3 linked regions of the Homo sapiens genome follow. The protein of the gene in region 3 interacts with the protein of the main gene of each other region in a biochemical or structural test. Each region holds a gene or a part of one and is shown on either strand. Other genes may lie near its edges.

Region 1 (10,904 bases), on a different chromosome or scaffold from region 3:
ATAACTTGCATGCTTGCAAGCATGCACACATAAAATGGGTGACTATTCATGTGAGTGTCTTGGAAGCAAGTTTTTCCCTCAACAGGCAATTGGGCTGCACCATCTCTAAGGTTTCTTCCAACACTAAGAAACTCTAGTTCTATAATCATAAATTAGCATAAATTATCTTATTAGCAGCAGTATACATTATATGCCTCCAGTCCTTCAAAGCATTTCTGATGTTTTTACCTCCTTACTCTACCTTCAGCTCTGCCTGACCAAAGTAACCCCCATCCACATTTTCCAAATAATTCACCTCTGAAAAGAAGTTACTTTTCTGGTAAGACACCCATGAAGACTTACCCCAGTTTCTGCAGGTTACACTGTGGATTCTTGGCTTTTTCACATAAAATTGCGACTCCTGAGTCTCCCAAGGCATTCTCCCCCACATAGAGTCTGGTCAGGGAATGGCTGGTGCTCAATACTGATGCAAGATCCTGACAACATGCTGATGTGAGGCAGCAGCTGACCAACCTTCCATAGAGATGGCAGAATGTCAGTCATGTCTCTCACCCACGCTCCACCATGGACAAGGAAGCACCCGTACCTGCCACTGCCTCTACTCCAGTTTACACATGGAAAGGGAGTGGACACAAGCTCTATGTACACTTCTGATTTCCTTTTCCATTTGGTGGAATAACAAGTAAGCATTCTCCAAGCTCCCACCAATACTACATCTTCCCAGCTCCCTACATTCAGCTTTATTGTGGTAAAATACGTGTAAAATAAAATTTACCATTTTAACCATTTTTAAGTGCACAATTAATGGCCTTAAGCACTTCACATTGTTGTGCAACCATCACCACCACCATCTCCAGAACTCCTTTCATCTTGCAGAACTGAAACTCCATAACCATTAAACAATGTCTTCCCACTCTCCGCCCTCCCATTGCCTGCAACCACGTTTCTTCCTGTCTCTATGAATCTGTCTGTTCTAGACACCTCCTATAAGGACAATCAGAGTATTTGCCCTTTCGAGTCTAGCTTATCTTACTTAGCATAATGTCCCCGAGGCTCATCCATGTTGTAGTGTGTACTAGAATTCTTTTTAAAGCTGAATGTACATATATAGCACTTTTCAACACCCTTCATCCGTTGAAGGACGTTTGGTTATTTCCACCTTTTGGCTATTTCTAATAGTGTTGCTATGGACATAGATGTACAAATAACATGTTTGAGTTCCTGCCTTCTGTTTTTTTTAATGCTTCCTCTGTCACCCAGGCGGGAGTACAGTGACGGGATCTTGACTCACTGCAACCCCCGCCTCCCAGGTTCAAAAGATTCTCTTGCCTCCACCCCGAGTAACTGGGATTACAGGCATGCACCACCATGCCTGGCTAATTTTTGTATTTTTAGTAGAGACAAGGTTTTACTATGATGGCCAGGCTAGTCTCGAACTCCCGACCTCCAGTGATCCACCTGCCTCAGCCTCCCAAAATGCTGGGATTACAGGTGTGAGCCACCGCTCCTGGCTGAGTTCCTGCTTTGAACTCTTTTGCAGATATACCCAGCAGTGGAAATGCTGGCTCCAGTAGTAATTCTGTATTTATTTTTTAGGAATTGCTGTGCTGTTTTCCATAGTGGCTGCATCATTTACATTCCCACCAGCAACACACAATGGCTTCCATTTCTCCGCACCCACACCAATACTTGTTGTTTTCTAGTTTTCTTGCTTTTGTTTGATAATAGCCATCCTAATGGGTGAGAAATGGCCCTTCCATTTTTAAGTGGTTTTTTCTCTCCTTCAAAATGCAAGTCTCCCAGAAGCACTCAGGGAAGGGCTGCATACAACATCGAGGGTCTGCATTGCTTTAGCACCATTTTTCTTATACAATATGAGGACCCAGGGCTTGTCATGAAGTTCTAAAACTCCTCTAAAGCAATGCATTACACTGATTTTTTCTTTTTGTCAGCTAGGCAGTAGGCACCCTAAAGGCAGACATCTTCTTTTTGTTATTATTTATGCTCCTTGTCAGGGTTGAGTGTGTGGCTTTCCCCACGACAAACACTCACTGACCGCAATGCTAGACACCCCAAGACAAGCACACGCAGTCACCCGAGCCGCCAAGGCCATTCTCACTCAAACCCCAGCCCACCGGGCCTCACTGAAGCCAGAGTGCGCAGCACGCCTCGCTGGCAGAACTTCCTTAGGGGAACGGGCTCGACTCACCAGAGCTTCTTCAGATTGCACAACAGGTGCTTCAGTCCCACACACAGAAGTCTGATTCCGAAGTCACCGAGGGCGTTGTCACTCAGGTCCAGCTCCACCAGCTTCTGGTTGCTGCTGAGGACCAAGGAGATGTCGAAGCAGCACTCATGCGAGAGGCCACAGCGCCCCAACCTTCATGCCAAGAACAGAGGCAGAAAGCATCAGAACACACCTGACCAGAGAGCTCCAGAACAGAGGAAGCATCAGGACACACCTGATCAGGAAGCTCCGGAATAGAGAAAGCATCAGAACACATCTGATCAGAGAGCTCCGGAATACAGAAAGCATCAGAACACACCTGACCAGAGAGCTCCGGAATAGAGAAAGCATCAGAACACATCTGACCAGAGAGCTCCAGAATAGAGAAAGCATCAGGACACACCTGACAAGAGAGCTCTGGAATAGAGAAAGCATCAGGACACACCTGACCAGAGAGCTCTGGAATAGAGAATGCATCAGGACACACCTGACCAGAGAGCTCCGGAATAGAGAAAGCATCAGGACACACCTGACCAGAGAGCTCCGGAATAGAGAAAGCATCAGGACACACCTGACCAGAGAGCTCTGGAATAGAGAAAGCATCAGGACACACCTGACCAGAGAGCTCTGGAATAGAGAAAGCATCAGAATACACCTGACCAGAGAGCTCCGGAATACAGCACAAGGCACATTGGGAGGTCAGCCCCCAGTCTCCCCAGTCACAGCAGAGGGATCACCTGTCAGTGAACTCCCGGCCGTAAACAGTGCCGGGTGCATTGAGATCACCCCCCAGACATGTGAATGGTGCGCTCCTGGTTTGTAAGTGAAGCGGGCGGTGTGGGCCTGTGCACCCACCTCCTTCCCTCGTGTTCCTAACCATTGACGTGCCCGCAGTCGGCACTGCCCTCGCCAGTGCTGCACTCAGCTATTTCTTGTCTTCACCAACATTGTCACCCCATTGTGTTTGACGATTTCATCCCAGCCCTCCATCTATATTGAAAGGAAAAGCAGCTCTGATTCTTTTTCTTTTCTTTTCTTTTCTTTTTTTAAAGACAGGGTCTCACTTTGTTGCACAGGCTGGAGTGCACTGGCGAGATCATAGCTCACTGCCACCTCGAACTCCTGGGCTCAAGGGATCCACCTGCCTCAGCCTCCCAAGTGGCTGCAAATACAGGCATGTGCTACCATGCTTAGCCATTTTATTTTATTTATATTTTATTTTTATTATTATTATTATCTTCTAAAGACAAGGTCTCACCAGCTTGCTCAGGCTGGTTTTGAACTCCTGGGCTCAGGTGATCTGCCCACCTCAGCCTCTCAAAGTGCTGGGATTCCACATCCCGCTGCAGCTCTGATTCTTGATTAGTTTCCCCGTCACACACATGCACACAAACACACACGCACATCACTACCACCGTCACCACCACCACCAGCAACAAAAACTATACTTTATCCCTGTCATGGGGGCAAGAACAACATTCTAGCTTCTTTCCAGGGCAATAGTTCATAGGTCCTGGAGCCTGTTAGACCACCTTCCTTTCTGTCCCTATCCTTACACCAACTTCAAGCAAATGGACAAATGGATCTCTACTTCTCTGCGAAGCATCTCACTGTCCCCTACCCTTCCCTGTTTGTGTCTGCCTCTCCAGAATCATACAGGGGCAATGGCAGTGGGGAGAGAATTTGGGCATGAAGTTGGAGAAATAAGGTTAAATGTCCCAAACAACCAGTCTCCATGGCACTACGATTTGAAATTTACCAAAAGAGCAAAGATGAAGAGTGTGATCTATATACATAATGGAATACTGCTCAGCCATAGAAAAGAATGAAGTCACATCTTTGAAGCCACACAGATGGAACTGGAGGCCATTACCTTAAGTGAAACAACTCAGAAACAGAGTCAAATACCACACGTTCTCACTTACAAGTGGGAGCTAAACAAAGGGTAACATCCATAGAGCATGGAATGATAGACACTAGAGCCTCAGAAGGGTGGGAGGGTGGGAGCCAGGTGAGGGCTGGAAAATTATTTATTGGGTACAATGTTCACTATTTGGGTAAGAGTTACACTAAGGCCGGGCACGGTGGCTCACGCCTGTAATCCCAGCACTTTGGGAGGCCGAGGCGGGTGGATCACGAGGTCAGGAGTTTGAGACCAGCCTAGCCAATACGGTGAAACCTTGTCCCTACTAAAAATACAAAAATCAGCTGGGCGTGGTGGCCCATGCCTGTAATCCCAACTACTCGAAGAATTGCTTGAACCCAGGAGGTGGATGTTGCAGTGAGCCGAGATCACTCCACTGTACTCCAGCCTGGGCAACACGGCGAGAGTCCATCTCAAAAAAAAAGGGGTAGTTACAGTAAAAGCCCAGACACTACCACTGTGCAGTAACATATCCATGAAACAAAGCTGCTCTTGCGCCCCCTACATCTACAAAAATAAATACATAAAGTAAAAAATAAAGAGCAGAGCAGACAGAAAGCATTTAAGCCACCGAACAGCACAATCGAATCAGAATTTTCTAAAGGACCATCTTACTTTTGTGCAGAGAATGGTCGGGTGAGGGAAAAAGGCAGACACAGGGAGACCAAAGAGCCAACATTCATTCAGTGCGTGCTTTTGACCACTGATGGGTACTAAGATGTCTGTCCAGGCGTGGCAAAGATGACAGCAAGACAAACAAACGCAAACCCCATCCCCGGGGAGCTGATGGTCTAGGAGGTCACTGCGTGTCCAGGCAAGTGGTGACAGTTGCTGGACCTGGGCTGGTGGGGTGAGGACGAGGAAAAGTGGAAAACAGCTCGGGTAGGAGGAAAAATTGATAAGACTGGTGACAAGGTGAGTGTGTTGAGCCGGAGAGGGAGGTAGCAAAATGTCCTAGAGTGGCGGACTTTAACACTTGCTGTGCAGCTCCTCAAAAATGCAGACGCCTGCATGCGTCCACAGAGCAGGGAATGAAACAGAGCTAGTGAGGCGGCCCAGGCACCAGCGCGGTGGGGCGTGTGAATCTGATTCATGGTGTGGGAGAAAGCAAGCACATTTTTTATTATTATTATTATTATTATTATTTTGAAATGGAATCTCGCTCTGTCACCCAGGCTGGAGTGCAATGGCACGATCTCGGCTCACTGCCATCTCCGCCTCCCGGGTACACACAGTTCTCCTGCCTCAGCCTCCCGAGTAGCTGGGACTACAGGTGTGAGCAAGCACATTATTAATAAAGTCACAGGAGATTCCCTGTGACATTTCAACCCATACAAAGCATTCTGACCAGGCTGGGCAACGTGATGAGACCACATCTCTACAAAAAAAATACAAAAATTAGCCAGCATGGTGGTGCATGCCTGTAGTCCCAGCTACTCGGGGGAGCTGAGGTGGGAGGATTGCTTGAGCCTGGGAGGTCGAGGCTGCAGTAAGCTGTGATCACACACTCCAGCCTGGGTGACAGAGAGAGGTCCTGTCTCAAAGAAAAAAAAAAAAAGTATTTTCATAGTTTTTAGGTGAGGTTGCCATTGTTGTAAATGGCAAATTCTCCAACTCTCATCTATGAACATGGCCCATGAGGAAATGGAATATATCGAGCATCATGGTTGTTTCAAGAAATGACTTTTTTTTTAGTTCCTCATTCATTCTTCCCCACACAAAACTTCCCCAGCTGGCCTCCAACCCATTCTACCTTCTCACTTGTTCTGGGCTGAACTGTGCCCCCCCAAAAATTTACATGTTGAAGCCCTAATCCTCAAGACCTCATAATGTGGCTGTTTTGGGAAATGGGGTCTTTAAAGGAGTGACTAGATTAACATTAGGTCTTGTGTAGTCATGCCTGACTGTGCCTAATCCATCAGGACTGCTGTCCCTGTAAGAAGAGGAGACTAGGCCACTCTTCCCCCCAAGGCAAGATGGCATCAGTACACAGGGAGAAGGGGGCATCTACAAACCAAGGAGGGCGGCCTCAGAAGAAACCAACCCTGCTGACACCTTGATCTTAGACTTTCGGCCTCAGAACTGCAAGAAAATGAATTTTTGTTGTTGAAGCCATTCAGTCTGTGGCACTTTGTTACAGCAGAAACCACACCACCGGCCGGGTGCGGTGGCTCATGCCTGTAATCCCAGCATTTTGGGAGGCCGAGGCGGGCGGATCACCTGAGGTCAGGACTTCGAGACTAGCCTGGACAACATGATGAAACCCCATCTCTACTAAAAATACAAAAAATTAGCTGGGTATGGTGGTGGGTGCCTGTAATCCCAGCTACTCAGGAGGCTGAGGCAGGAGAATCACTTGAACCCAGGAGGCAGAGATTGCAGTGAGCCGAGGTCACGGCATTGCACTCCAGCCTGGGCAATAAGAGCAAAACTCTGCCTCAAAAAAAGAAAAAAAGAAAAAGAAAAGAAAGAAACCACACCAGCAACCTGGTCCTGAAGATCTTTCTCCAGTCTGTTTCTCTCTCTCTCTCTCATATGAACTTGCACTCACACAGATCACATGCACGGGGACTCACCACAATCTCCGAATGTTACAGCCAGGATGCTGGAGCGTTTCACACAACACTCTCATCCCTGGGTCCCCCAGAGAATTGTCACTGAGGTCCAATTCAGTTAGACTCTGGCTGGTGCTCAGAACTGAAAAGAGGCCCCGGCAAAAACTGGAAGTGAGGTGGCTGTTCACCAATCTAGGAATTAGAAGGAAGACAGACAGAAAAGAAATCAGCCTCGAATAATAACTAACTGGAGCTGGGGGCCGGGGTGCCTGGCACCAGTTCAGAGAAATGCCTTCCGGGGATTAAGAAATGGGTCACGAAACCAAAAATTGTTCCCAGAGAAATGAAGAGGGCTGGATGAGCCTTGGTAAAAGCAGTTCTGCCTCCTCTCGGACGGAGAGCATGAGCCTGTGACTGTGGCGGACTGTGGCACCCTACAGCCTGCTCCCCAGTGTCCTCCTCTCGCCCTTACCAGTCCACTGTCCCAACATGGCCCTGAACGTTCTGTGCTGGGTGATCAGAGGGCAGTCCTCACTCCTGGCTACACAACAGCATCAGGAGTGCTCACAAAAATCCTCAGGCCAGGCTGGGCATGGTGGCTCACACCTGTAATCCCAGCACTTTGGGAGGCCGAGGCGGGCAGATCACCTGAGGTCAGGAGTTCAAGATCAGCCTGGCCAACATGGTGAAACCCTCTCTCTACTAAAAATACAAAAATTAATTGGGTGTGGTGGCACGAGCCTGTCATCCCAGCTATTAGGGAGGCTGAGGCAGGAGAATCACTTGAACCTGGGAGGTGGAAGTTGCAGTGAGCCAAGATCATGCCACAGCACTCCAGCCTGGGCAACAGAGCAAGACTTCATCTCAAAAAAAAAAAAAAGAAAAAGAAAATCGCAAGCCCAGGCCACATCCATGGAAATAAAATCAGAAGCTCTGAGGTGGAACTAGATGAATTTTTTAAATTTTTTTTCAGATGAAACCCAAGCTGGAATGCAGTGCCATGATCATAGCTCACTGCAGCCTCAAACTCCTGGGCTCAAGCAATCCTCTTGCCTCAGCCTCCCGAGTAGCTGAGGTTACAGGCACGAGTCACTGTGTCCAGCTATATGGATCTTTTTTATTTAAAAAAAGCCAGGTGGCTCCAACATGCAGTCACATTTTTGCTTTTGTTTTTCTGTAGAGAGGTGCTCTCACTTTGCTGCTCAGGTAGGACTTGAATTCCTGGCTTCAAGCAATCCCCCCATCTTGGCCTCCCAAAACCTAGGATTACAGGCAAGAGCCACTGCACCCACACATGCAGTCACCTTTGAATCACCTGTAGCTCTCATTCAAATGCAAAGTCTAGCTCTCTAGGTCTAAGATTGGGTCCACAATCCTGCATTTCTAATAGATGCTCAGGCTTCTGGTTCTCAGAAGGGACTGGAACATACAAAGCAAGCTCCTGCCCTCAGAGTAAGGCAGCTGCCATCTAGAAAGATGGGTGCTGAGCCCCCTACCAGGGCTCCAGTCAGAGTCTGTCCTCAGAGTAAGGCAGGTGCCATCTAGAGGGATGGGTGCTGAGCCCCCTACCAGGGCTCCCGTCAGAGTCTGTCCTCAGAGTAAGGCAGGTGCCATCTAGAGGGATGGGTGCTGAGCCCCCTACCAGGGTTCCAGTCAGAGTCTGTCCTGAGGAAGGAAGGTGCTATCTAGAGAAATGGGTGCTGAGCCTCCTACCGGGGCTTCAGTGAGAGTCTGTCCTCAGAGGAAGGAAGGTGCTATCTAGAGAAATGGGTGCTGAGCCCCCTGCCAGGGCTCCAATCAGAGTCTGTCCTCAGAGGAAGGAAGGTGCTATCTAGAGAAATGGTTGCTGAGCCTCCTACCGGGGCTTCAGTGAGAGTCTGTCCTCAGAGTAAGGCAGGTGCCATCTAGAGGGATGGGTGCTGAGCCCCCTGCCAGGGCTCCAATCAGAGTCTGTCCTCAGAGGAAGGAAGGTGCTATCTAGAGAAATGGGTGCTGAGCCTCCTACCGGGGCTTCAGTGAGAGTCTGTCCTCAGAGGAAGGAAGGTGCTATCTAGAGAAATGGGTGCTGAGCCCCCTGCCAGGGCTCCAATCAGAGTCTGTCCTCAGAGGAAGGAAGGTGCTATCTAGAGAAATGGGTGCTGAGCCTCCTACCGGGGCTTCAGTGAGAGTCTGTCCTCAGAGTAAGGCAGGTGCCATCTAGAGGGATGGGTGCTGAGCCCCCTACCAGGGCTCCAGTCAGAATCTGTCCTCAGAGGAAGGAAGGTGCTATCTAGAGAAATGGGTGCTGAGCCTCCTACCGGGGCTTCAGTGAGAGTGTGCAAACCTTCCTCACAGATGTGTGATCTTCATAAGGTCTCCCTGCCCTCTCCACCTTCCACCTCACTCTTAATGAGTAGTTCTGCCTACTTTTCTCTCTGTCTTACTCTTCTTCTCCCATTTCTATGGTCTGAATGTTTGTGTGCCCCAAAATCCATACGCTGAAATCCTAACCCTCAACATGACGTATCAGGCGATGGGGCCTTTGAGGTGTGGTTAAGTTATGAGGGTGGAGCCCTCAGGAGTGGGATTGCTGTCCTTAGGAAAGGGACCCCAGAGAGCTGCCTTGCCTCTTCACCATGTAAGGACACAGTGAGAAGGCACCATCGACCAGGGAACAGGCCCTCACCAAACACCAGATCTGCCAGAGCCTGGATCATGGACTTCCCAGCCTCCAGAACCGTAAGGTGAACCTTCCTTTTGCTTATAAGCCAACCAGCCTGCAGTGTTTTGTTATGGCAACCTGATGAATGAAGACAACTGTCTTTTTTCCAGTCACTCGGAACTGTTTGCTGCCGTAGAAACCGTACCCTGCTTTCCCACACCTGCCCTCTCTCTCAACACCGTAAGCCCCCAGCCTGGCTGCCCCTTTCCTTCTCTCACTCTCTCACTGCCCATCCTCCGGAAGCTGGCTGAGCGGGGACACCCACCCGTGCCCCGCTGGTGAACAGGTTCGTCCCCTTGTGCTTTGGATACTCTGCAAGTTTCCTTGTCAGAGCCCATGACCCCCTCCCCGACATCTGCACTTGTTTCCGGACTGTCCCACAGCCAGACCTCAAGTCCCTGTGACCAGGACCTGGGTCTTCACCACCACTGCGGCCCTGTGGGCAGTCAGTCCTTCATGGCCAAACCATGACTAGGAAGGTGGTCCTGGTCATGGTAATGTCAACGGATCAAGAAAGCTGAAACTCATTGTTGCCTGTGGAAGGGCCAAGCCTCCTGTTTCCCTTAATTTTGCCCCACGTCAAGTGTCTTCTATCCAGGCTAAACTCACACATCACAGGGTGGCCACCTTCCTACAACCACTGTGGGTGGTCCTTCTGCAGGAGGCACTGAACGATAAACCCAAAAGGGACTCAGAAGTCAGGTGACTCAACCACTTCATTGCACAGACTTGGCCACTAGCTTCCAACCACCCAGCAAGTGTGTGAACAGACCCGAAAACGGGGTTTTGGCAATGCCCAGTGCAGAGCAACATGGGGGCCTAGAAAGAGGGTCTCCACATTTCTGCTCTATTTCCCTTGATTTACCTTCATCATGTTTTTTTCCAAGGAAACTGTGTCTCTCTCCACTGTCACCTGCACACACTTTTTCTCAGACTGCATTCATGATTTGGCTCATACCAGTCTTCAGTGCAGAATTCCTTTAATTTCTTCTCTATGCGCCCAGGTCCCACCATTCCTTAAAGGAGGCTTAGATTGCACATTTCTAAGAAACATCCCCCCAGCCTCCAGCTCTGAGGCCCTCTGTCCCCTCGCTCCTGGGACACAGACTCTCTGGCATTGTTCTGCCCCACAGACATTGACTGACTCTTAGGCACTAGTGCTCCAAGTAGCTTACAAGAAATTTCAGTTGACAAATATTTGTAGGCAATCCTACATCCTACTTAATACCTTGTGCTAAACTGGCATTCCCCAAACATTTGTTCCTTGTTTTATTTTTTTTTTCCTCATCCCATTTATCCACCTACCATACATCAATCTTTGCTCATGAAGGAGTCTCAAACAGACAGTGGTGGCATTATGATGTAGCTGTGGCAACAGTATTTGGAAGATAGTTGAAAAGAGATGAGAGGAGGCAAGCGCCAAGAAGAAGCTGGCGAGGAAGCAGGAGGAAGCACCTGGAAGCCGAGTTTCCTTACCCATGAGAACAGGCAGCATGA
Region 2 (10,904 bases), on a different chromosome or scaffold from region 3:
TGAACCCCTCACCTAAAGCAACTCTCCTTCCTCAGCCTTCTGAAGTGCTGGAATTACAGGCATAAGTCATCATTCCTGGCCCCAAATTTATCTATAGATTCAACATTATCTCAATCAAAATTCCAAAAAGTATTTTGTGGAATCTGAAAAGCTGATTTCAAAATTTATATGAGAATGTAAAGGGTCAAGACTCTCTCAGACACCCTTGGAGAAAAACGAAGTGGTAGAACTTGCCCTAAAAGATATTGAGACTAATTATAAAGCTACATTATGTACAACAACATGGTACAAAGATAGACAAAGATTTTAATGGGACAGAATAAAGAGTTCAGGGATAGCTACACAATACGGTTGGCCCTCTGTATCTGAGGGTTTCACATCTGAGAATTCAACCAATCGTGAATTGAAACCCACAGATATGGAGGGCCAACTGTATTATATCATTTTATGTAAGGGATTTGAGCATCTGTGGACTTCGGTGTCTGCAGGGTACCCTGGAGCCAATCCTGAGGGTCAACTGTACATGACTGTAAAGAAAGGTGGCACGTACCGTTGATAAAATTTGATAAGGATGGCACTTTGCCTCTGTGACCTTCCTCCCCCAAACCAATAACTCTGATCTAATCATAAGAAACATAATAAAGAAATCTCAAGTAAAGGACATTCTACAAAATACCTAACTAGTACTCCTCAAAACTGTTAAAACCAAAAAACTGTCACAGTCAAGAGTAGCTTAAGGAGACATGACAACTAAATGCAATATGGTATCCTAAATGGGATCTTGGAACAGTAAAAGGACATTAAGAAAAACTAAGGAAATCTGGATAAAGTATATAATTTTTTTTTTTAATGGAGTCTCGCTGTGTCTCCTAGACTGGAGTGCAGTGGCATGATCTTGGCTCACTGCAACTCCACCCACCAAGTTCAAGTGATTCTCCTGTCTCGGCCTCCTGAGTAGCTGGGACTAAGTCACATGCCACCACGCCTGGCTAATTTTTGTATTTTTTTAGTAGAGACGGGGTTTTGCCATGTTGGCCAGGGTGGTTTCGAACTCTTGATTTCAGGTGATCTGCCCACCTCGGCCTCCCAAAGTGCTGGGATTACAGGCAAGACCCACTGTGCCCAGCAGATATAGCCCTTAGCTAACAATAATATATCAATATTGGTTTATTAATTATTAAATGTATTGTATTAATGTGAGATATTAATAATAGGAAAATGGGGGTGCTGCAGTGGCACGTGTCTGTAGTCCCAGTTACTTGATAAGGTGAGGTGGGAGGATCATTGAGCTCAGTTCAAGACCAGCATGGGCAACATAGTGAAACTCTGCCCCACTACCTCCCCCAGAAAAAACCCCAGGGGAATGGGTATGGGGTTATACGGGAACTCTCTGTACTATCTTCACAATTTTTCTGTAAATACAAAACTATGCTAAAACAAAAAGTTTATTTTTAAATAAACTACACTGAGATATCATTTCTTACTTTTTGAGATATCATTTTCTCACTGGCAAGAATTTCAATTGGCAAAAAGTTTAACAAGTCAGTGAGGTTGAGAGTGAAACAGGTACTCTGATACATTGCTGTGGAAAAGCAAATTGGAATGATGCCTATGGAGATCTGGGAAATGCCTAGCAATATTACATAACGATTTACTCTTTGACCAGCTGTAAAAATAGACTTTAAAAAGGAATGGGTGTTTTCTCTATATAGAGGTATGGAGTGAGATCGAAAATATCTTGTTAAATTAAAAGAAAAAAAGTGTTATATCTGAGAGCAGGGCGTCTATAAAATTAAAAAATAAACCAAATTAATAAAATTAAAAAGAAAAACATATGTCCTGGCCATGATGGCTCATGCCTATAATCCCAGCACTTTAGGAGGCCAAAGTGGGAGGACTGCTTTAGGCCAGGAGTTTGAGACCAGCCTGGGCAACATAGCAAGACCCTGTGTCTACTTTAAAAAAAAAAAAAAAAAAAGTGTACCTTTTATTTAAAAAGGGGGTAGCATACAAATATATTTTGTATGTATATAAATTACTATATTATCTAATATTTATGTTCAATCTACCTTTTTCAAAGTAATACCAGTATTATTACCAATAATACACTTATAAAAAACAGCTTATAATTTTTTTGCAGTTTTTTGTCCTTAAGATAAAAGGACAGTCAAAATACCAAGTTTTAAACCCACTTGAAAACATGTCCACTGATTACAGTGTCGTGCACCTGTAATCTCAGCTACTTGGGAGGTGGGAGACTGAGACGGGAGGATCACTTGAACCCAGGAGTTCAGCTCCAAGAAGAACAACCCTAACTCCTGGGCTCAATGATCCTCCTGCCTCAGCCTCCCGAAGGCTGAGGAAACTAGGACTATAAGCACATGCCACTGCACCCCCATTTCCCTATTATTAACATCCCATATTCATAAAATACATTGGTACAATAAACCAATATTGATACATTATTGTTAACTAAAGTCTATACTTTATCCAGATTTCCTTAGTTTTTACCTGACTTCTTTATCTTAAAAATATATATTAAATATAAGTATTTATATGAATATATTTACATAAGTATTTACATGTAATATATTATGTATAATTTATATGTAATATGTCATATAATATAAAACATTGTATATAATTTATATTATATACTATATACACATTTATATGCCATCCCCTTTTTAAAATAAAAGGGACACCTTTTTCTTTGTTTTTGAGACAGGGTCTCACTCTGTTACCCAGGCTAGAGTGCAGTGGCACCATCTTGGCTCACTGCAGCCTCAACCTCCAGGGCTCAAGTGATCCCCTGACATCAGCCTCTTGAATAGTTGGGACTACAGGCTTGCACCACCACACCTGGCTAATTTTTGTATTTTTAGTAGAGACAGGCTTTCACCATGTTGCCCACGCTGGTCTCGAACTCCTGAGCTCAAATGATCCACCCACTTCAGCCTCCCAAAGTACTGGATTATAGGTTTGAGCCATTACATGAATGAGAGAGAGAGAGAGAGAATATATTTACTTACACTTTTAAAACACGGAAGGCCAGGCACGGTGGCTCACGCCTGTAATCCCAGTACTTTGGGAGGCCAAGGTGGGTGGACCACCTGAGGTTGGGAGTTCAAGAGCAGCCTGGCCAGCGTGGTGAAACCTCATCTCTACTAAAAACACAAAAATTAGCCAGGCGTGGTGGCACACACCTGTAATCCCATCTACTCCTGGAGGCTGAGGCAGGAGAATCACTTGAACCTGGGAGGCGAAGGCTGCAGTGAGCCAAGATTGCCCCACTGCGCTCCAGCCTGGGCAACAGAGCGAGACTCTGTCTCAAAAATAAATAAATAAATAAAATAAAAAATAAAACATGGAAGGGTAAACTAAAAACAATTAAAAAGGTTTCTAATCAGGGAAGGAGAGAAGAGTGTGGAGAGGACATGAACAGAAGATGTTTCTCTAACTGTACCTTTTTCCATAGCTTTGACTTTGGAACCACGTATATGCTTTATAAATTTATGAAACGAATTAAATCAAAATTTAAAAACCAGTATCTAAAAACAGATAACATAATGAAACAAGTTAATTTACCTATGTTGAGTTAAACTGTCCAGAGACTTTTTTTTTGGCAGGCGGGGTATAGAGGACTTCTTGCTATGTTACCCAGGATGGAGTGCAGTGGCATGATCATAGCTCACTACAGCCCTGAACCCCTGGGCTCAAGCAATCCTCCCGCCTCAACTTCCTGAGTAGCTGAGACTATAGGCATGGGCCACTGCGCCTGGCTGAACATTTTTTTGAGTGGGTTAAAAACCTCATATTTTGACTGTCCTTTTATCTTAAGAACAAAAAAACTGCAAGTAAATCATAAACTGTTCTTTAAATAAATTATATCCTTGGTAATAAAACTAGTATTATTTTGCAACAGGTAAATTTTTAAAATTTAAAATTTTTAATCAAAAATCAATAAAAACAAGGCCAGGCACAGTGGCTCATGCCTGTAATCTTTGGGAGATGGAGATGGGTGGATCACCTGAAGTTGGGAGTTCGAGATCAGCCTGGCCAATATGGTGAAACCCAGTCTCTACTAAAAATACAAAAAATTAGCTGGGCATGGTGGCACGCACCTGTAGTCCCAGCTACTCGAGATGCTGAAGTGGGAGAATCTTTTGAACCCAGGAGGTGGAGGTTGCAGTGAGCCAAGATTGCACCACTGCACTCCAGCCTGGGCGACACAGCGAGACTCTGTCTCAAAAAATAAACAAATAAAAATAAATAAAAACAAAAACATAATATTTTTAAAAATATAGCTTGTGAGACCAGGGAATTTCTAGTAGAATGTTTAGAGAAAGAAAAGATATAGCAGGTGTTATAAGTGTCTCCAATCTAGTACAAGTATTTTCACTGTTAAGTCCCTCTGTTCACATACACTCACACACATACACAGAAGCAGAGTTTTGTCTAATTATACATAATCTGGAATGATGGCAGATGCAGAACAGCCAAGGGTAACAGAAAGCAGAGGTGAAGCTAAGCATCCAGCACCAGCCTTCACTTTCTTTCATTTTAATGGAAGAATGAAAAGAACTCCCTAACCATGGCTAGATGCAGTGGCTCACGCCTGTAATCCCAGCACTTTGGGAGGCTGAGGCGGGTGGATCACGAGGTCAAGAGATGGAGACCATCCTGGCCAACATAATGAAACCCTGTCTCTACTAAAAATACAAAAATTAGCCTCGCGTGGTGGCATGCGCCTGTAGTCCCAGCTACTCATGAGGCTGAGGCAGGAGAATCGCTTGAGCCAGGAGGCAGAGGTTGCAGTGAGCCAAGTTCACACCACTGCACTCCAGCCTGGGCAACAAAGCAAGAATCCGTCTCAAAAAAAAAAAAAAAAAAGAACTGCCTAACCACATAGGCCACAGGGCCACCAAAGGACTCTTCTTCATCTCTAAGGTGATTTACCTTCCAGTGTTCCTCAGGACAGTATGGGGTCAGCAAGAGATGGTATGGGGTCCTGTTGCAATTTTTGTATCACTTACAGTGAGGGTTTCCTGGGGCAGCTATTCTAAAAATTGTTCAGTTTGCAGAACAACCTCTTTGCAGAAAGCTATAATTCATTTTGTAAAAACATGAATAATGATATATGTAAGTACCCTTCATAGACTATTTTTCTTACAGAAAATGATTCCTCTATGTATGCAATATATGAAGTTATGATGTGTGTCCACAAAAACACAAACCATCAAACTAAGCATGATTGACTATTTCTGGGCTTTTTTCAGCAATACTCATTTATAACTTGGTTCATTTGTTTTATGGTCTCCTTCAATTTCCCTGGAATCCAATAGTAGTAGGTGCCAAAAGTCCTATATAAATCTATGGGAGAAAATGAAAATAATCAGCTACTTTCTTTTTTTTTTTAGACTAAATCACAAGGAAAAAAGCTACTTCCCAGGAGTTTGAGACCAGCCTGGCCAACATGGTGAAACCCCGTCTCTACTAAAAATACAAAAAATTAGCCAGGCATGGTAGCGGGCACCTGTAGTCCCAGCTACTCGGGAGGATGGGGCAGGAGAATCGCTTTAACCCGGGAGGCAGAGGTTGCAGCAAGCTGAGATTGTGCCACTGCACTTCAGCCTGGGCAACAAGAGCAAAACTCTGTCTCAGGAAAAAAAAAAAAAGAAAGAAAGAAAAAAAAAAGTTACTTCCTTCTACCTTCAAAAATATCACCATTATAAAGTTTTAGCTGTAGACCAACTCAGTCTGTTTCTTGGAAGTTGAATTTTACCCAAGAGCACAGCCTGAAAACCCGTCCTGATCTGTGAGGCTGAGACACGCTGCATAGGAGCAGTGGAATGGGAAGATGAAGGAAAGAGAGAACCAGGGCTGAGAATGAGAGTCTAGACTCTAATGATAATATTAATATGTAATAACGTATAACTGGCATGAACAGAATTGGCCACAGAACTGCATGCACATTTTATCTTTCCAGAATTTTTCAAGTACTTTTGGTTAACACAGTGTACGGATGAGCAAATGGGTTTAGAAAGCATCATAACTAGCTCGAATTCACACAACTAGTAGAAGGAGCCTCAGGATTCAGAACCAGGGCAGTCTGACTCCAAGGCCAATACTGCTTTTCTTTACCGAAAAAAATAAAATAAAATTCAAATATGGATTGCTAGACATTTTAAAGCTGAGTATTTGATATTAATACTACAACTTTGCCCTTTTCAATTCTGTCTGTCACCAGACTCCCATCTTATAACCTATTTTGCCTGATGGCTCTTGAAATGACAACAGCATTGGTTGGCTGTTGATCTTTTACTGCCTGAACATATAACATTAACAACTCTTTTACTTCTTTAAGTTAACTTTAATATTTAAAATACCTTGGAAACCATTTCCTTCCTTTGCATGCTTGGGTACAAGGTAAAATGGCTTTAGTCGTAGTTGCTTCCTAACTTTTGCTGAAAGCCAGTTTTGAATGCGCAGGCCTTCTTGGGTGCTAGCAGGCCAGCTACTTTTTGATTCCAAAGCCAGGGTTATATCCACAGATATTTTTTCACTAATAAGAAGTGTTACAGCAGGGCTCCCTCCTCTTTTCCTCTTCATGATGACATCTGTATCTGGTTGAACATATAAAAGAAAAGAAAGTATTTATTAATCCAATTTTCTCTGGAAATACAGGGGAAATAATGTAACTATAATTGAAGATCTCTGGTGTGCTAAGTATGAAGTAAACATTAGTGGTAAAACAGAAACTGGCTCTAAAAGGCAAAGTATTTTACTAAACCAATATTGGCTGGGCATGATGGCTCATGCCTGTAATCGCAGCACTTTGGGAGGCCGAGACAGGTGGATCACTTGAGGTCAGGAGTTCGAGACCAGCCTGGCCAACATGGTGGAACCCCATCTCTACTAAAAATACAAAAATTAGCCGGGCATGGTGGCGAATGCCTGTAATCCCAGCTACTCGGGAGGCTGAGGCATGAGAATCACTTGAACCCAGGAGGCGGAGGTTGCAGTGAGCCGAGATCACATGACTGCACTCCAGCCTGGGCGACAGATTAAGACTCTGTCTCAAAAAAGAAAAAAAAACAAAAAACAAAAAACACAATAATTACTGATATCTCCCATTGGGAGGCATTGTCAAGATGGTGTGGGGCATATATGATGAAGGGGTCTCTGTAGACTTTGAGGTTTAAGAGTGCTGTGATTAAATTTTCTTCTTTTCTTTTCTTTTCTTTTTTCTTTTTCTTTTTCTTTTTTTTTTTTTTTGAGACAGAGTTTCACTCTTATTGTCTTGTTGCCCAGGCTGGAGTGCAGTGGCACGATCTCGGCTCACTGCAACTTCTGCCTCCCGGGTTCAATTGATCCTCCTGCCTCAGCTTCCTGAGTAGCTGGGATTACAGGCATGTGCCACTGTGCCTGGTTAAATTTTCATTACAAATTATAGATGGCAGAATGGAGGGAAGCCTAGAGGAGAGGCCAGATGGGCAAGAGGGAAGAGACAGGCAGCAAAAAGACCACAGCAACAGCCTGGCACAGAGGCTGGGTGCCACGGCAGCACAGAGGTAGTGAGCATCAAGACACGGGGAAGAAGTGAGAGCAACTAAAGAAGTCCAAATCAACATAAGTGGTCATGAGTTGAGGCTACGATGTGAGGAGGAAAGTAGGAGCCTTGGGATGCCATCCCAGGATCTTGGCCTTCCTAGGCCTAATGGCTGATGTTGGTTCCATTCCTCAAAATAGAATAAGCAGGAAGAAGAAAGATTGGGCCAAGCTGAACTTCATGAGATACAATGAGCTCTAGATACCTGTGGGACACTCAAGTGGAGATGGCTGCTGGGTGGGTGGCTATGGTCAGAAATTTAGATGGCTTTGGGAGTTGGGGGTTTATAAGCAGTAAAGACTACTACTGTCAGATAAGACTTCCACAGTGACGAAGTAGAGCACAAAGGAGAAAATGCTAGAAAAATCTGCAAACCTGGCCACCTGTTACCCAAACCTGGCCACCTCTCCTGTTACCACTGAGGAAGTAAGTGTCCATCTACCTTACTTTTTTTTGAGACAAAGTCTTGCTCTGTAGCCCAGGCTGGATGCAGTGCAGTGGTGTGATATCAGCTCACTGCAAACTCCACCTCCCAGCTTCAAGTGATTCTCCTGCCTCAACCTCCTGAGTCGCTGGGATTACAGGCATGCACCACCACACCTGGCTAATTTTTGTATTTTTAGTAGAGACAGGGTTTCACCATGTTGGCCAGGCTGGTCTTGAACTCTTGAGCTCAAATGATCTGCCTACCTTGGCCTCCCAAAGTGCTAGGGTTACAAGTGTGAGCCACTGTGCCTGGCCCTCCATCTACCTTTCAAAGGCCACCTCTGCCCATAGTCTCTGGATCCCTTCCTTCTCAACTTCTCAAGTACCATGCTCTTCAAGTATTTCCTCTCCTACATCAGCCATCTCTCCCTCCCTGCTAGATTATTCTGAAATTCATACAAAGGGTTATAGGGTATACCTCTCCTTTCACCCCACATCTTCCTCCTCTCCATACTCACCCATCTTTCTGCTTCCTTCCAGCCCAAACTTTTTTTTTTTTTTGAGACAGGGTCCCGTTCTGTCACCCAGGCTGGAGTGCAGTAGCGTGAACATGGCTCACTGCAGCCTCAACCTCCTAGGTTCAAGCAATCCTCTTGCCTCAGCATCGTATGTAGCTGGGACCACAGGCACATGCCACCACTCCTGGCTAATTAAAAAAATGTTTTTTTCTTTTTTCTTTCTTTTTTTTTTTTTTTTTTTCTGAGACAGTCTTGCTCTGTCGCTCAGGCTGGAGTGCAGTGGCGCAATCTCAGCTCACTGCAACCTCTGTCTCCCAGGCTCAAGCAATTCTTTTGCCTCAACTTCCTGAGTAGCTATGATTATAGGTGTCTGCCACCACGCCTGGCTAATTTTTGTATTTTTAGTACAGACGGGGTTTCATCATCTTGGCCAGGCTGGTCTTGAACTCCTGACCTTGTGATCCGCCCACCTTGGCCTCCCAAAGTGCTGGGATTACAGGCATGAGCCACCATACCTGGCCTAAAATTTTTTTTTGTAGAGATGGACTCTCACTTTGTTGCCCAGGCTGGTCTTGAACTCCTGGGCTCAAGCAATCCTTCTGCCTTGGCCTCCCAAAGTGCTGAGACACCACAGTTAGCCCAGACAGAACTTTCTAGAGTGGCCTACACATGTTATCTCCACTGCAACCCTGCCTTTTCACTCTGTGTCCATCACCCCACTGACATTTCTCTTGTCAACCCCACAAGACCAAAGAACAAATCCATTGGATTTCTGGATGTCAGTAGCATTCCAAACACTGACCGCTCCTTCTACAAAACACTCATAGTCTCCTTTTGTTCATTCTCTTCTTCCCAAACTCTTTTTTTTTTTTTTTTTTTTCTGAGACAGGGTCTCACTCTGTCGCCCAGGCTGGAGTTCAGTGGCGCGGTCTCAGCTCACTGCAACCTCCGCCTTCTGGGTTCAAGAAATTCTCTGCCTCAGCCTCCCAAGTAGCTGGGATTACAGGCACCCGCCACCACGCCCGGCTAGTTTTTTGTATTTTTAGTCAAGACGGGGTTTCACCATCTTGGCCAGGCTGGTCTTGAACTCCTGACCTCGTGATCCACCCGCCTCGGCCTCCCAAAGTGTTGGGATTACAGGCGTGAGCCACGGCGCCTGGCTCTTCCCAAACTCTAATGGAATTCTCTTCTTACCACTCTACTTAACATTGCAACTTCCCCCCCACCTCCATCTCCCACATTCCTGATCCCTCTCACTTTGCTATACTTCTTCACAACAGCACTTACTACTTTCCAGTATACAAGATAATCATTTTTTCCATTTGTTATTAATTGTACGTCTGTGCTTGCAAGATAAAGCTCTTAATCTAATAGCGTAATAACATACAACACAAATTGCAGTGAGTGCTCTGAAGGGAATAAACTGGGAAAAGTGATAGCAATTAGGGTGGAATGGGGTGGTGGAGCCAAGCCCTGAGGCAGAAAAAAAGAGCTTGGAAAGATCTAGGAACAAAAAGAGACTCTTTCGGAAAAGATGAAGTTATATGAAATGAAGCTGAAGAGGCAGCCAGGGACCAGATTCTGTACTGACTTGTAGACCCTGAAAAGGACTTTAGATTTCATTTTATTTTTGAGACGGAGTCTTGCTCTGTCGCCCAGGCTGGAGTGCAGTGGCACGATCTCGGCTCACTGCAACCTCCACCTCTCGGGTTCAAGCGATTCTCCTGCCTCAGCCTCCCGAGTAGCTGGGATTACAGGCATCCACCACCACGCCTGGCTAATTTTTGTATTTTTAGTATAGATGGGGTTTCACCATCTTAGCCAGGCTGGTCTTGAACTCCTGACCTCGTGATATACCTACCTCAGCTTCCCAAAGTGCTGGGATTACAGGTGTGAGCCACTGCGCCTGGCCAGATTTTAATTTAATTTAATTTAATTTTATTTTATTTTGAGATGGAGTTTCGCTCTTGTCACTCAGGCTGGAGTGCAATGCCCCGATCTCGGCTTACTGCAACCTCTGCCTCCCAGGTTGAAGCAATTCTCCTGCCTCAGCCTCCCAAGTAGCTGGGATTACAGACATGTGCCACCACACCCGGCTAATTTTTGTATTTTTAGTAGAGATGGGGTTTCTCCATGTTGGCCAGGCTGGTCTCAAACTCCTGAGCTCAGGTGATCCACGCACCTCAGCCTCCCAAAGTGCTGGGATTACAGGTGTGAGCCACTGCGCCTGGCACCAGATTTTATTATCTGATCATTGAGAAGCCAGGTTTTCATCAGAGAGTAATGACTGGCTTTGTATTTTAAAACATTTACTCTGGCTTCTAAGGACAGATATTATAAGAAGGCAA
Region 3 (10,904 bases):
CAGACACTCCCTCTTTTCCAAAGAAAAGACAGCCGCATTCCATGGTCATCTGGTTGAGCTCGAGGTGAGCCCCAGGGATCATGTGCCTCCCACCAGGCTGACACCCCAGTGGTGAGGAGTTGCCCCTTGGCTTTTTCGAGGCCAAGCAACTCAGAGGTGTGGCAGGATTGCATGTCACAGTGGCACTTCCAAGGCCCTGGAGAGTGACTCAACGCCTCTGTTATTAAGATGTCACACAGGCTGTGCAGCAACAACTCTAGGGACACCCTTCACACTGACAGAGTTGGCAAGCTTTTCCTATAAAGGGGCACACAGTGAATACTGTAGGCTTTGTAGGCCATACTATCTGTCCCAACAATTCAACTTTGCCCACTGTAGCTGTGAATCAACCGTAGATAATATTAAGTGAATGTGCACTGCTGTTTGCTAATAGTTTATTGACAAAAACAGCTGCTTTTGAGCAGTTTGCTACCCCGACAGAGACTGTGGGGAGTCCCTGGTGGCAGCGAGCTACAGGCAGCCAGTACCCCATCAGTGTGGCTGGTTCCATCCTCTCAAGCCTGCCTGCACCCAGACACTGTCGAGTGTGTCTTCAGAAAAACTCCTAAAATTCCCCAAAAGCACAGTGGCTCCCCGAGAGCCACCTCCCTCACCTTCTTACAGGGGCAGGTTCCTCTTCCGGTTCCACCCTCCTCAGCACGGAGCTCAGGGGCCATCCCCACCTCCTCTTGGCCGCAAGCACAGACCTTCCCACACAGGCTCAGCAGCTCTGCGGGCCTGTCCCCCACCTGGAGCTGCAGGCCTCCACTCCTGGGGACAGCTGTGACCATGGCTCTGCAAAGCAGCCTTGTGCCTAGCTCCCAAGTCAGCTGGCAGCCCAGAGTGGAACAATTCTGTGGATCACCTCTGAGACAGCAGCACATCTGGGCAAGCCTGGCTTCCCACCCCTCACCTCCTGCAACCTCTGACCCTTGCCATGCATGTGGTAGGGAAGCTGCAACCAGGCCTCAGCACTCCCAGACCTGTGGGCGGTTTGCTGTCTGAGGATCGTGGCACTGCCTTCCCTCAGAGGCCTTGCCAGAGCCAGGGGATGCAGCGTGGCAGAGCTGTCACTGGCAACCCTGCTGGTCTCCCTGGTGCTTTCTCAGCTGGGCTGTGGGTCAGGACAAATTTCTATGGATAAGGCTGGATCATAATCTAGTGCTCCATGGTCATGCAGCGACAGACTCGAGTCTGCCTTCTCTCAGGGTGGTGAGCTCAGGTAGGAACGGGATGTTTGAAGCAAGCACACCTGTGAGAAATGCCTGTTTTCACTCCCATCCCACACACTCGTCCAGACACTGCCAGCCCACCCCCGACACACGTGTCTGAGGGAGGCTGAGGAAAACAGACACCTCCAGGAGCCGCATACTATTTCCTGATGTGTAAGCCAGACAACCCTGGAAAGGAGGTCAGGGAACCGGAGTGCCTGCCAACGTCCCCAGCCTCCCTGCAGCAAAACACTCTCATGGCAAAACTCCTTTTTAAAGAAAGGCTTTATTGCTGCAATTAGACATCCCAGTGTATAGCACAAACCCCCCTGTACAGAGAATTATTCAAGTGGTAATACTGAGAAACAGTGAACACACACAAAAGAATACAAAACTAGACATTTAGATCACTAGAAACTTTCTAAGGTAAGAAAAATTTCAAATGTGAAGTGCCTTTTAGAAACTACACCACACATGCCAGTGTAAATTTGGTTTAACAATCAATTTCTATAAACATTGCATCTAACTGTGCACTGATCAACTGCACAACTTCAACAATTACTTCCAAGACAAAGATAAATGCTTTTATTTCCCTATGTTTTGGTCTTTCCTTGGGCTAGAGACAGAAGCTGCATGTTTCAAACCAGATTCAAAAGGGAAAGCACTTCAAAACAGAAAGTACTTCAATTGTGTATTTGCCTTCAGCCACATCCAGAGACTTGTGGATCTCACCCGGTTGGTCCCAGCCCTTCTCCAACCCTGAAGCCCACAGCAGGGGTGCAGAGGCAGCCCCAGATCGTGCAGACATCACCCGAGGCTCCCAAACTGGCCCAGCTGCCTGAGGCCTGCATGCCTGTGGCCAGGTAGGACACATGTGCAGGTTTGAAAACTAGGCCTACAAGACTGAAGAGTGGACTGAAGCAAAAAGGGGAGAAACATTAGAGGCCTACAGTAGGAAGAGACCTTTTATAGAGTTTTCAGGAAATTCTCACAATAAACTTGGGCACAAAGACCAAATTGCTGAGGCCAGAAGCCTGCTTATGGTACTGTGACTTATGGGGAGTAGAGGCCAAATCAGAGAGGGCTGGCTGGTGATACCCCAGACCACTTGCCTCTTCCCCTTCCCTGGCCTACAAATACCAGGCCTCCTGGCCCTGAGACCTCATTCTGGGTTTCTATATGGGTCAACCAAATGCCATCCTTTCACTAAACCCAGGTGCAAAATGGGGGGGGAAGGGGGGAAGCTGGGGAGTACACAGCACCCAAAAGAACCGAGAGAGCAAGTTTTCCAAGGCTACAGGAACATTGGCAGAGCTGGTGGCCACACCAGATGGGAGTACCACATCCCCACCAGGCTTCATGCTTCACTGCTAGATGCAGGGGGCTAGAAGGGTCTGATGAATCAGGAGCTGAACTAGAACCTTCAAGAAAAGAAAAGGCAAGGGGGTGGCTCTGTGCCCCGCCAGGAGAGGAAAGAAGAATGTGTGTGGATTGTCCACAGTGAGGCCAGAAACGATGAGATGGTGTTAGGCAGAAAAGAAGGGAGAGGGCTTCCCATGAGAATCTGGCTGGGCATGGGAGGGATACAGGGCTCAGTTATCAAGGCACCTTTGCCATAGTGGGGTGCCAGCTACATTGGGTGGGATGCCCAGGGGCTGTCCCTACCTAAGCACTTTCTTGTCTACAGGAAGTCTTGGTGCTTTTCAAGTTCAGCATAAGGGGTTCCATATGTGAAGTGGGGATTCACACTTAGAAAATCTATCCTGGTCTTCACCTGAAACACTCATCTACTGCTGGGTGGCAGGAACAAGTATACAAAACCAGGGGCCTTGCCTGGGCAGTTCCTAAGGGACATTGGCAGGGCTGACCTGGGATTCAGCTCCCCTGAGTGGACAGTCTGTGGTTGCCTGGGGTCCCCAGGCTGAGAAGGGGTATGGGTAATTGCACTTCGGGGCACAGTGAACACAGGCACGGGCTGGATGTGCCCTGGGAGACAGAAAGGAGAGGCTGACCTATTCTCAGGAGCTGGCTATGGCTGGACAGTGCCTGCCCGGCCAGAGGAAGGCCACAGCAGAGCCACTCCACAGACTAAGACCTGTGTTGCCAAGGAATCAGACACTGGCTTGGAGGAGACAGGAGGACAAAGCCTGCTGCTATTAAGCCCACACCGTAGCTTAGAGATCCTTCAGCCTCCTGGCCTTCAAAACAAACTCCAGGGCTTCCACTCTGAAAGGCAAAGGAATCACCTCGTGTTTGCTTCATCCCCTTAGCAGGATGAACGAAACGCCTAAGGCCCAAAAAGACTGAGGGCAGGACCCCCAGCATCTCCCATCTCCTCCGTGCAGGCTGGGTGAGAGAATGGCCTGGAAAGGAAGCATCTGCGCTACATTGTGCTTCAGGCCCCCCCAGCAACTTTCCCGGAGGTAACTATTTGCCTGGAAAACTAGGAAACTGGGTTTTAAAAACAGAATTTTAAGCAGACTTTTTAGAGGGACAAGGCCATTTGATGGTAGTGATTTTGGTTTTGTTTTATGAAAATGGTACAGGTGGTAATCCCTGATGACAGAATGCACTGAGAGTGGGGCCAAGGGCCCTGAAGGATCCTGTCTGTTCAGTCTGGTTAAGGCGACAGCTGGGCGGGCATGTGGCCGGGGAGCAGTGGCACAGCGGACCCTGGCAGTTTGCTCACACCTGGCCCTCGTCCCAGAGCCAGCCCACCTGCCTCTTGGCCCTGGTAGTGACTCCACAGAACTTCCCCGAGCAGAAGCCTCACAGTGGGCCAGCACCCATCTTGCATGCAAGGGAGAACCTGCATGCAGTGCACACACCCCGGCCAGGGTGGCACATGGCTGCTCTTTCAATGTGAAGCCAACACCAACTGGAGAGATTTAACTATAAAGGAATATTTTTTAAATATTCAGTTTTGTTGTCATTACTCACTTCCTTTCCTTCCATTTCGATCTCAGAAACTGTTCTTTTTCAGTGTTGACAAAAAAGAAATGTATGGGCCAGGTCTACAAAGTAACACCTTGTCATAAAACAGGCTCAAAAGCATAGGAATCATGCTTTAATTGCCATTTAGCATCCACTAATTCCCATGAGATCTGTGATTAAAAAAAAAGCCTCTGGCCTGCTTGTCCTGTCTTAAAAGTCATGAGTCTGTTTTATGAACAGAAAGAATGCCACGCTTCTTAGCATATGTAAGGCAAAATGGATTTTTGATCTCTCATGATGTAAAGGAGATACAAAGGTAAGGAAGGGAAGATTTCTAAGTGAGACTTTTTTTGAGTGTCAATCCCGCTGGACACACATATTACAAAATAAAGATTTTCTTCTGTAAAGTGCTGTTTGCTCAGTGAATCATGCGCCACCACAGAGCACCATGGCTCCACCTGCTCAAGAGCATGGAGGAGGCAGCATCGGCAGAGGGCAGGCAGGAGTCTGTGTTTGGGGGTCTGTTTCAATACCATCTCCTGGGGTTCGCCGTGATGCAGAGGGAATCTTCTCGTCATGGCTAGACACTCCCCAATGCTCTGCTCCAGGCTGGGGACCACTGCAAGCTGGAGGCGGCTGGGTATCAGGGCCTGGGCACCCCTGCTCCTCCTCTTCCCTTGGGATTGGCATTTTATTCTCTCATTCAGCTCAAGACCATGGGCAGGAACTCTGCTGGCTCCCCATGATGTCATCATGGGGTCTTCCACTTTCCCACAGAGCTGCCAGGCAGAGGCAGGACCCAGGCATGCCTGGCCCACAGGAAGGTTTTCTAGGAGACTAAGGAGGGTTTAGAAAAAGAGAAGCCACTATAAATAGTCACCTGTCCAGTCTATGCTATTAAAGGACATAAGAAAGGTATACAATTGGCAGTAAACAATTTCCTTCAGCTCTTCATGGATGTCCAGGAAAATGACAACCCGCACACAATCAGACGTGAATGATTTCTGCTCCAGTGTCTTCAGGCTCTGTGCAACAAGAAGAGTTTGTGTCGGAATGACAGATTCCATATCCATGTTTATTTTCAAAGTTGGGCTCTGTTAGTGGAGATTTTTCAAAAATATTCTTTTTGCTTGTTTCTGGACAGTTTTGAACATAGATCACTCTATTATAGGCCTTGAGTCTCTTCCACAATTGCACATACACTTTACACTGAACATACATAAAAAGAAGTCCTCCGGTGAAGCCGATGGCCACAACCACCAATTTAGTCCAAAAGGGCCATTCTAGGATTCCTGGAAGGGAAAAACTCAGCCTATTAGATTTTATTTAAGATATGAAGTAAAGAAAAACACAACTTCTGAACTTCCCATAATCAACTGATTCTTTGTTGTTGTTGTTGTTTTTTAAGAGATGGAGTCTTGCTATGTTGCCCAGGCTGGAGTGCAGTGGCTATTCACAGGTGTGATCATGGCACACTACAGCCTTGAACTCCTGAGCCTCAGCAATCCTCCATCCCTCAGCCTCAAGTATCTGGGGACCACAAGCCTGCACCACTGACCAATGGATTCACAACTCATCCAATGTTGCTCAGTCAAAGAAGAGTGGAAGACAGTGTCCAGCTACTTCCTGCTTTTATAGGATGTAGTTTGCGGAGATTCTCATGCTCCAGAATATGAACTCTCCTGACTGGGTTTCAAAAACTACCACCACAGCAAAAGAAATGCCAAAAAGGAGGCTAGTGCCTCCTAACTGATGTCCCTCCTCCGGAAACCCAGACGTTTTTGGCTAACTGGAAAATCCTCTGACCCCAGGACTCCTGTGAGCTATCCCGGCCCCCATGCTGAGCTTGCTCCAGCCTGAGAACTCACCTGTTGCCTGCCCCTGCTTGATCTCCTCAGCAGTACGGTCAATGAGCACATACAAGGACCAGACCACACATGTGATGGCAATGACGTGGAATGTCACTGAGCACATGATCTTCCTGCGCTCGCTGGACGTCATCTGCAACTTCTCCCACTAGAAAGACAACACAGAGTGTGAGGCTCAGGCTTCTGGGGAAGGGCTCCGGTGGGGTGAGAGCATTGTAGGTAGGTAAGATTGGCTTTCCACCCCACTTCTCCCTTCCCAAACTAGATGCATTCCCCCAAGTATTGTTCTCCTAAAACCACTTGGCTTCAACCAGGTACCAGGTGCAGCCAACTTTCTATGCAATGAAAAGAAGCCAGGATCAAGATGAATGCAGAACTACCATCAAAAATCCCCTTGTCTGCTTATTCTTGCAAGCAGACATAAGATGGCCTGATAAAGAATTCTATGATTTCAGTCCTAATGAAAACAGTATGTTGGCCCAGGACCCAGGTACTACGTTTTAAGTCTCCCTGATGTGCTGACTGGCATGGACGAGCGGAAGAAGAGGGTTGATGATGCCACAACACACTAGCAGATGGGTCACACTACATTGTGAAGGTGAATGGCAGAAGACGCTCACTCTTTGGTCCTTGCTACTTTGGCAGCAACAGCTCGAAATCGACGCTAAGAGTTCCTGGTACAAGCAGACTCTGCTAGTCCCATCTCCTCTAGGAGCTCATTAATTTACTCCAAATAGCCAGACTTTCTTTTTCATTTACTGGTTTCCGAATCAGGAGAAAACACATAAAGGTAGAGAGAAAGAACAATGTGTAAACACTCTGCACATATCCTTTGCCAACCCTAGTCACAGCCTCTTTCCAGATGAGTCTATGCAGGGTAGTTGAAAATAGAGCCTCAAGGACTTCCCATGTTGAGAGATTAGCATAGAGTAGGCACCCAATAAATTACAAGGTTTCTACTGGGCAAAACATTTTTTTAAGCAGTTTGCACAAGCCTTCTCTAAATCTGGTTGTTTTCTGCTGGGATTTTATACACTAGCAAGTTCCCTGGTCTTCCTACCTATAATACAGAGTCAGTGCCTCAGTGCCCCATGCTCCCTGCTACTTCCTACAACGCACGTAGCTTGACACCCTGTCAATGTTCACCTTCACCTTTCTAGGGTATGCTTTACTCCACAGACAGCCTGACCTCTCTAAACTCCTTGCACTCTGCCTCCAAATCCTAGTGATCCTTCAAGAACTGCTCTAAAACCCAAACACCCTATGAGGCTACCATCGCTCCACTTCCCCAGCACTCTAGCTCATAATGAGCATTTCCTTTTCTGAATGACTGTTATGCTCTACCAGCACACCATTTAGCATTTAATTGGCTAGTATTTGATTATGTGACTTATCTTGCAATTTATATATTAATGTTCTGAGATAGGAACAGTTTTTTATTCTTCCAGACAAAACCTTTTGTGCTGGGCATCTAGAGAGATATATGAAACAGTCAAAATTTAAACAGGAAGCCAGTGTGGCGGACAAAGCTCCTCTCAGAGGGAGCAGTGACATGGGCCTCCAGACAGCTGCGTGTCATGCAATGCCTGTGGGTCCTTTCTGAAGACAGTTGCACATCACGCAACGTTTGTGCTTCCTTTCTTTTCCCTATCCACCTACTCACACTCCCATCCAGCAAATAGTTATCATGGGTGTATACAAATAAATTTACTGTATGCTACACTGTGCTGGGTGCTGGGGAGATACTAATCTCCAACAGACAGTCCTAATCAGAGAAGCAGGACGTCAACAGTTAATATGTATAAAATTAGGTGCTAAGATATGTCACAAACAGTCTGTAGTCAAAGGCCAGAGGACTGACACCGACAAGCAAGCAGTCTTACTTTGAAGGGAAAAGAAGGATTATGAATGGTCAGAAAGAGCTTCTTCCTGAGAAGAGGGACTTGAAAATCAGCACCAGAAACAACAATCTCTACAATGCAAATGTAAGCACCAGCCCCAGCTTTTTAAGGAAATGAACGCAGGCAAGCCATGACCTCATGATCTGAGACACCAGCTTTCTGGGGGTCACTGGTTTCAGGAAGGGTGAAGCATCCCTTCCTCCCACGTACTTTTCTCAGTGGCTTCAGCTTGGTCTCCATGATGAACTCATACTTGCAGAGCTCGCAGCAGCGCGTGTCGGAGCTCTTGATCCACTGCTGCAGGCAGGCCTGGTGCACGAAGTGGAGGCTTCCTGTGCAGTGGCAGGGGGTGATCAGGGGGCTCTCATCATCTCCTTCACAGTGGCAGATCCTATGGTGGAAGGAAAACCTGTCATTCCAAGGACAGTCCCATGACAGGGAAGCTGACACTTCAGTGGCAGGTTAATCCCCCCAAAGGAAACTCAGAAACGAACATTACAGAAGTGACTATGGGCACAAAAACATACAAACACAAACGAAAACAATCACTACAAACTAAAAATGTCTAGCTTACCGCACCAACATGGAAAGTCTGGAGGGCATTTGGCAACAGAAAGGAAAAAACGATGTAAGAAATGACAAAGCTGTCATTTTTTGGTAAGAAATAAGAACTTCACTGAAAGATGAATTTAAAGCAACATGGAATCATTTTCCAGAACATAAGATGGTAAAATAATTAGAGGGAAAATTTCTATGTAAAACAAAACCTGCATTCCAACATCCAAAAATACCAGTGACCTTAAATGACGTTTGCTTTTTAGCTATAATCACTGACTTTACCTTCATACCCCACAACTACACATTTCTGTCGTCTCTCAGCAAGTAAACAAAGATGACAGTACCTCTCTCCTAGACCTAAAAAACTCACCATTACAAGATGCTGCAATTTCATCTCTTTTTCTTGGGACCACTAATAGCAATAAGTGAGAAATTAATTTGAAAGCACTCTCTATTTCCAAGGAAGTATGCAACAAGGTGTAGCTACTAGCCTGAAGGAACTTAACAGGCTTTTAAGAAACAGAGGGGTCTTTTCCAGCAGCTAGAGAACAGGTTGGGGCACTCGTCCTGGAAGGAGCCAGGCTCTCAGGCTGTTTTAGTGAGGGGATCTCTGATCCAAATGTTAGAAATGATGACAGCTGGCACTAAGGAGCGGAGACTGGAGAAAGGTCAGAATGAGGAGGGCACAAGAGTCATGACAAAAAGTGAATTATGGAGGCCAGACAAGGATGCTGCACAAGGGAAGATAAAGGGGGGAAACAGAGTTAGGATGGGACATAGGTGGCTACACCTCAGTTAAAAAGAAGGAAGGAAGGAGCTACTGGAGAACAGCCAGTCCCCACACACCTTTTGGGGGTAGGTAGGGAGCAAGGGTTAAAAAAGAGGCTGGGAGATGCAACAATGCTTAAAATCTGGACCATCAGGCTGGAAAACTGAAGATACTAGTTTCTTTCTTCCAGTTTCTTTATGCAAAGTCTACTTATTTTTAGTTTAGAAGAGTCAGCTTGGCCTTTAATATGTGTAGCTTCTTCCTCTTTTTTTTTTTGTTTTGTTTTGTTTTTTTTTAGACAGAGTTTCACTCTTGTTGCCCAGGCTGGAGTGCAATGGCGCAATCTTGGCTCACTGCAACCTCCGCCTCCCGGGTTCAAGCAATTCTCCTGCCTCAGCCTCCTGAGTAGCTGGGATTACAGGCGCCCGCCACCACGCCCGGCTAATTTTTGTATTTTTAGTAGAGACGGGGTTTCGCCACGTTGGCCAAGCTGGTCTCAAACTCCTGACCTCAGGTGATCCACCCGCCTCAGCCTCCCAAAGTGCTGGGATTACAGGCGTGAGCCACTGCGCCCAGCCAGCTTCTTCCTCTTTTATCATTTGTAAAACTATCTTGGGACTCACATCATAAAAATTAAGTTTTTCAAACGATATTGATACTCCATTCTTCTGGAGAAAACCATCAACCCACAACTGGTTACAACTTCCTATTACTTCATTTTCCTGAAACTTCACATACTAAAGCAAGAGGAGGTTCCTGATGCGAGCAGAGATGGCTAGAATGGCACTTCCTGGCAAACCAACCTGCAGACATCCCCTGACGTGGACACGGGAGATATGGGGGGTAATTTTTCAGAGAAGGGAGAAGGACAATCCAGGTCGCTGTCCTTTTCCGTGGAGCAGAGGGGCGCCCGCAGAACCCTACTCTTCAGTTTTGCAGATGTGCTGTCCTCAAAGACATCGTCGTCTCCCATCTCGTCAGAGCAGAAGCCCATACTCCCTGCCAGCCCGCTGGAGGACTTGGCAGTGTGCAGGCGAGCAGCGCAGCTCTCCAGCTCATGGAACCTGTGCAGGCTGCTGGCGCTCAAGCCGTGCGAGAGTGAGAACAGGTACTGGAGCAGTTGCCGGCTTCGGGACGTGGCCTCACCATCCGCCTTCTCTTCCAGCAGCAGGCCGGGCCTGCCCCCCTTGCCAGCTTCCACCTCTGAGGCAGTTGAGCGACCGGCAGAAAGGCATGAAACACAAGAATGTTTGGAATTGCCAAGAGGTTTGTGGTTCAGGGTTCTTTTTTCTTTATGATGAAACCTGTTAGTTCTGAGACACGTATCTTGAGGGAGTATTAATTTCCCTTCAGAACAAGTTCTTTCCACATAGGCAAAACTTTCTGAAGTATCCTGCGCCTTCTCACCCACATCATTGAGGGACCTTGAGAACTTTAGTGTTCTTCTGGCTTTGGTATTCTTAGCAGGCTTCAAGGCCTGGGCCCATTCTGAACCAAAGGAATTTCTCTTTGACGCCTGTAATGTGTCCTTACAGATAACTGTCACAGTGAGCCCTTGTGTCAGAGAACTCTGGCAGTGAGGAGCTTTCGAGACAACAGCAGACTGCACGGAACTGTGGTGACA

What was found.
Region 1: the proteins of MARCHF8 (region 3) and NLRP3 form a complex in vitro, tested with the Homo sapiens proteins (one study listed by BioGRID).
Region 2: the proteins of MARCHF8 (region 3) and CGAS form a complex in vitro, tested with the Homo sapiens proteins (one study listed by BioGRID).

What each region holds. Positions count from the first base shown.
Region 1 is NC_000001.11:247,425,579-247,436,482, reverse strand, and holds part of NLRP3 (NACHT, LRR and PYD domains-containing protein 3), read right to left. Parts: coding exon 10,884-10,904; intron 6,899-10,883; coding exon 6,728-6,898; intron 2,381-6,727; coding exon 2,210-2,380; intron 514-2,209; coding exon 343-513; intron 1-342. UniProt on the Homo sapiens protein: Sensor component of the NLRP3 inflammasome, which mediates inflammasome activation in response to defects in membrane integrity, leading to secretion of inflammatory cytokines IL1B and IL18 and pyroptosis.
Region 2 is NC_000006.12:73,433,820-73,444,723, forward strand, and holds part of CGAS (cyclic GMP-AMP synthase), read right to left. Parts: intron 6,627-10,904; coding exon 6,390-6,626; intron 1-6,389. UniProt on the Homo sapiens protein: Nucleotidyltransferase that catalyzes the formation of cyclic GMP-AMP (2',3'-cGAMP) from ATP and GTP and plays a key role in innate immunity.
Region 3 is NC_000010.11:45,453,068-45,463,971, forward strand, and holds the end of MARCHF8 (E3 ubiquitin-protein ligase MARCHF8), read right to left. Parts: coding exon 10,084-10,904; intron 8,345-10,083; coding exon 8,164-8,344; intron 6,811-8,163; exon of another isoform or gene 6,673-6,810; intron 6,201-6,672; coding exon 6,053-6,200; intron 5,477-6,052; coding exon 5,172-5,476; 3' UTR 1,518-5,171; downstream 1-1,517. UniProt on the Homo sapiens protein: E3 ubiquitin-protein ligase that plays several important roles in innate immunity and adaptive immunity.